Regions from separate parts of the Homo sapiens genome. Here region 1 is linked to region 2. The links come from fine-mapping of genetic effects on gene expression. A gene starts in region 2. The other region holds a variant in brackets. All regions are shown on one strand. Distances are from middle to middle.

Evidence for each region. PIP is the estimated chance that this variant, and not a neighbour inherited with it, causes the effect.
Region 1: its variant is the best candidate, but not a certain one, in a credible set for the expression of FAM124B in whole blood (INTERVAL, PIP 0.51).

The regions. Positions count from the first base shown.
Region 1 is chr2:224,376,408-224,379,327 of GRCh38, forward strand. FAM124B (family with sequence similarity 124 member B) reads right to left here. Exons shown (of 2, transcript NM_001122779.2): 2 at 2,291-2,920. Among named protein-coding and RNA genes, the nearest start is that of FAM124B, 24 kb to the right of the region's middle. The variant G/T (reference allele first, on the strand shown) is at 1,440.
Region 2 is chr2:224,401,002-224,403,921 of GRCh38, forward strand. It overlaps FAM124B (family with sequence similarity 124 member B), which reads right to left and starts at 1,106. Exons shown (of 2, transcript NM_001122779.2): 1 at 36-1,106. The coding sequence starts at 767.

The sequences.
Region 1 (2,920 bases), 25 kb before region 2:
AATAGGCTACTGTATATTGTAAACATAACTTTTATATGCACTGGGAAACCAAAAAATTCATGGGACTTGCTTTATTGCAATATCTGCTTTATTGCAGCAGTCTAGGACTGAACCCACAATAGATGTGGATTTTATTTATAGAAAAATAAAGTATTCTGATCATCAGAAGACTTTCAGATTTAAAAAGTGACACATTATACATTTTAGGGAATACCGTCTAATTTAATTAAGTCTAATTAATTTGATAAATTGGATTGAGCTAGTTCATAGTTTATCCCTGTTGTATAAAATCTCTATTGAACTTTGGGATGCATTTGATTATTTGTTATAAATAATTTTCCTCTTAGCTATAGAAACATAAAGTAAATGGCACATGTAGTACAAATCTTAGAAAGGTGGATTTATTTTTTGTTGCCTCATTGATTTCACTAAAACTTGTTTCAAAAGAAGTCCTTTGTTCTCATGATATTTTTAAACTGTGGGTCCGAAGGACCAATGGTATTAATAATACACTATATTATATAATATACAATATAATACAATAATCATAAAAAACTCACACATTTATAATGCTTCATGAAATCCAGATGCTTTCATATACAACATCTTGATTCCCCTAACAATCTTTTGTTACAGTTGATAAAGCAACAGAGGACAAAGGAGCCTGACATGCTCAAGGTCACATCAATAGTAAATTTAAAAGTGAAACCAAAATCTGGGCCTCCCCACCCAGTTCACTGGTATTTCCATCCCATCATGTTGTAAATTGAATTCCTGTGTTGAGTAGTGTGATGGTTAATATTGAGGGTCAACTTGATTGGATTGAAGGATGCAAAGTATTGTTCCTGGGTGTGTCTGTGAAGCTGTTGCCAAAGGAAATTAACATTTGAGTCAGTGGACTGGGAGAGGCTGACCCACCCCCAGTCTGGGTGGGCACCATCTAATCAGCTGCCAGCGTGGCTAAAATAGAGCAGGCAGAAGAATGTGGAAGGACTAGACTGGCTGAGTCTTCTGGTCTTCATCATTCTCCTGTGCTGGATGCTTCCTGCCCTTGAACATCAGACTCCAAGTTCTTCAGCTTTGGACTCTTGGACTTACACCAGTGATTTGCCAGGGGTTCTAGGGCCTTCGGCCATAGACCGAAGGCTGCTCTATCAGCTTCCTTACTTTTGAGGTTTTGGGACTTGGACTGGCTTCCTTGCTCTTCAGCTTGCAGACAGCCTATTGTGGGACTTCACCTTGTGATTGTGTGAGTCAATACTCCTTAATAAACTCCCTTTCATATATACATCTATCTATCCTATTAGTTCTGTTCCTCTAGGGAACCCTGAATAATACAAGTAGGATAGAATAGATGACATTTTAAGGGTATATTATTTTACAAGTCAATTTTGTAAGGTGCCTGATTCACATTTCTCAATATTCTTTATAATTTTCAG[G/T]TACTTTTATTCTTACCCATGTATTATATTAAGAAAATTTAGATAACATCAAAAAAAAAGTGGGAAGGAAATTTCAAAACTTCTTCCTGCTGTGCTTATTCAAAGTTCAGTAGTTCAACTTCCTTTTTTGTTTTAACTCTTATTATAGAAAGCTATACCAAAGTTAAGCTCTTCATCCCGTTTTCTAAAATCAAATTGTAGTCTAGGGGAGAGAGAGACAAAATGGGAATGAGAATATGTTGATGTTTTAAGGACAAAAAATATCAATTGAGGAGTCTTGTCTTTGTCCATTTACAACTCTCCTCCGTTTCTATCCCTTTTGCGGAGAAGAGCACCCAAAATCAGCCTAGACTCACTTTTGCAAGATTTGACTTTAGGACTGAACTCATCTCTGTCTCCAGTTAGGTGTAGTAAGTCTCCAAGTCTCCAAAAGATCCAGCTAAATCAACATTTACACTCTTATGTAACATCTGTTCTGAGAGTGAAGTTCGTGGAATTGAATAACCTTATAAATGAACTGAAACACAGGCCTCGGGATTTTTAAACATGTGTGTACAGACATATCCAAAAAATTCAGCATATGGGCAACGAGAATTTGTCCATTGCAATTATAATTGCAATTCATAATATGCCCAGTCTCCATCTGCAGGTTGCAAATGCTTATTACACCATTATGTGGCCAGTGTGGGCCTCAACTGTGGAAAAAGTTTTTGGAGGAATATATTTGGAATTCAGTATCTTTTTAAAAGTTGGTAGAATGAATTTATCAGAGTGGTGAAACCATAAACACTTTTTGGGTTTCATGGCCCCAGAATGTATATGTACCATATACACAATGTCTTATTCAAATGTAGGTATTCAAAAAATGTTTATTGAATGAACATATATAAATGAATGAATGAGTGCGTTTTGTAAAGGAATCTGGGAGTCAAAATCTGGCCAGAAGAACCCAAGTCCTGCTCCAGTGACCAGATCAACCAGTCCAATTTTCCCACTGTGCTCAATGTTCCTCTTTGGTTTGTAACAAGAACCACTGTCCTCTTTGACATAGTGCAGAAACAAATGAGAAGCAGATGAGCAGGAAAGCCCTAGAGCCTAGCATTCATGTTCAACCTGATTTTCTGGCTTCCAGTATTTTGGCTCATTAAACAGGAAAACAAAATTAACTGTTTATAATTTTCAAAACACTTTGCATTTTCACTCATTCCAGATACAAACAACTTTAAAGACAAAATCACAAGGAGGGTATGTGAACAAGGCCTAGTTACCAAAAGAGGTCACATGAAAATTAAAAAGCATTCAAGAGTAAATAGCAGTCCATATTGTCCAGGGGGATGAGCTATGCAACCTAAGTAAAAATTAAAACCAAATTACAGACACTAATTAGTGTTGTATAACATACCGATTCATTTGCATACAATGCAATTATCCTGATAGGTGCTGGATTCAACACATCCAGCTGGGTTAGTGCATCTCCACGG
Region 2 (2,920 bases):
GAGCCTCTACAAGATCTGAGACAAAACAGAAATACCTGAAGCAGAATCTTGTTGCCATCGTAGTCCTGAGTCTGCCACCTGGTGCTGCTGATAGGCATGCATGGATTGGGTAGCAGAGGCACTAACTGGCCGATCTCTTGAACCTTAAACTGCAGCACCGAAGACTCTTTGGGGTCCACTGACATTCCCGGGGGCAGCTGCTTCAGGGAGAGCTGCAGAGCAAAGCTCTTGGAGGCATAGAGCACGAAGAAACAAAAATTGCTCTTTTGCAAGGTCGCTTCTCTCTGCAGGATCATCTCGTAGAGTCTGATGGCGTCTTCATAGTTATCAAAACTGCAGTACAGCGTCACCCTCAGGATCTCGGAGCCACAGTGCACCTGCCTCACCCCCCAGATGGGCAGCTGACTGTCCAGGCTGTAGAACTCCTGATTGGCAAAAAAGTAGGGACACAGCCTTCCCCGAGTGTCCTGGGTGGGGTAGCACTGCCATGGCGAATGCTGGAGAGAGTCCAGGACGCGAAATAGCCTATCCTCTCCCGGGCTTTCGTGCAGGAAGAGCAACACGGACATCCCTGGAAACCGGGACCGCTTGGAATGGGACTTTTCACAGTATTTCACAGGACTGGCCCGTTCAGACACCTGAAAGAGCCGGACCTCTGGGCAAATGCAATCCAGGAGCTGGTCCAGAGTCCTCTGCAGAAGGGAGCCGTGCCCAGAGTTGGCAAGAAGATGGACAGTCATGGCCAGAGGCCCCTGTGTCTCATCCATGGAGGAACTGCCTGAGGCTGACAAAGACAGCGTGTGTAGAAGGCCCACTGTTCAAGTTTCTGAAATGAATGAAGAAGCGGCCCAGCCTTCAGCCCGCCTGAAAACCTTCAGCTGCAGCGGCTACTTCTGAGCAGAGCTCTTAACCAGACTAACACGTGCTCCTGGCCACCCGTGGACTTACGGCAAGAGAAGCTCACACCAGCTCGGGTTCAGCAGCCTCCCTCTCCACACAGCAGCAGCGGGGTCACGTCATCCAGCTTGTGCATAATGTAACTGCTTGTGTTTAGCCTTTTCAGGCGTTCCCCAGGGTTTCTGCGTGACCTAAAAACCTATAATCCTGAGAAACACCCAAATGGGCGGCTCTTATAGACACTTAGTACAGGAAATGACCGGCCGAAAAGGAACATGAGTTGGCTCTGTTAGGCTGATAGCAATCTGTTTAGTTGAAAAGACATCCATTTTATCAACTTACAACGGGTTCTCATTTCCTACTTACGGTTTACAGTAGCCTGCTCCACCAATCTGAATACAATGACTTCTTGAAAACAATTCTCAAAACCTGACCCTTTGCCAGTTTTTTTTTTCCTTTGTCTCTTTATTTCATTTTGTTTCTGAACATTTTCTGCTAGGGCACGAAGAGAAGACTTTATCTAAATAATTTTGACTTCACTGAAAATTATTTGCTGTACCGAAAATTCTGAGTGTACTAAAAAGACATTGAGAAAATTAGTCTTCCTTTATTCACGCAAATTCTTTAGAAAGAGTGAGAGCTTTCCTATAATTGCTCATATAATTATAATAATAAATAATTATAATTAACAATTGTAATTATAATTTTTAGTGTCTAATGAGGATCTACTATGTACCAGTCATAAACTGTTCTAATTCTTAAAGTAATTAGTTTTGTTTTGTTTTGGAGATGGAGTCTTGCTCTGTCGCCCAGGCTGGAGTGCAGTGGCGTGATCTTGGCTCACTGCAACTTCCACCTCCCAGGTTCAAGAGATTCCCCTGCCTCAGCCTCCCCAGTACCTGGGATTATAAGTGCGCCAACACGCCCAGCTAATTTTTTTGTATTTTTAGTAGAGACTGGGTTTTGCCATGTTGGCCAGACTGGTCTCGAACTCCTGACCTCAGGTGATCTGCCCGCATTGGCCTCCCAAAGTGCTGGGATTACAGGCATGAGTCACCACACCTGGCCCTTAATGTAAATTAATTTAATCTTGCAACAAACCTATGAAGAAGAGATTACTAGCCCCAAATTACAGATGAAGAAACTGGGGCATAGAAAGGCTAGGTAACTTGCCCAAGGTCTCACAGCTAAGAAGTAGCTGAAGGATGATTTGAACCCAGGAACTTGCTGCACTGCCTCTCTGGGGCCTTGAAGTCCCAGCCTGGGTATTCTTCTTGTAAGGAAAAGATATAAAAGCAAGTTCTGGTTAAGGATCTAGATTTGCAGACTCTTGAGCTGTTGAATCTTAAACGGAATAATCTTCAATGAGAAAGTTGTCAAGCTCTAAACACTCACCCTAAATGTGTTCTAAATATTGATTTAAAAATTATTTGTGGCCACGCATAGTCGTCACGCCTTGATCCTAGTACTTTGGGAGGCCGAGGCGGGTGGATCACCTGAGGTCAGGAGTTCGAGACCAGCCTAGGCAACATGGCAAAACCCCGTCTGTACTAAAAACACAAAAATTAGCCGGGCAAAGTGGAGCATGCCTGTAATCCCAGCTACTCAGGAGGCTGAGGCACAAGAATCACTTGAATCCAGCAAGTGGAGGTTGCAGATCGCACTACTGCACTCCAGCCTGGGTGATAGAGCAAGACTCCGTCTCAGAAAATAAAAAATAATAAAAATAAATAAATAAATAAATATTTTTAAAAAATCATTTGCTCTCCTGATAGCTGTGCTCCTCAACAGGTATGAACAAGCACTTTTTCTAAACACAATTCTTTTTAAAAGAGGCAATTGGACCAGGCGAAGTGGCTCACAACTGTAATTTCAACACTTTGGGAGGCCAAAGCAGGACAATCGCTTGAGCCCAGGAGTTCCAGGCTGTGCTGACCTAAATTCATGCCACTGCACTCCAGCCTGGACAACAGAGCAAGACCCTGTCTCAAAGAAAAAAAATGTACTTCAAAAAGAGCTGTAA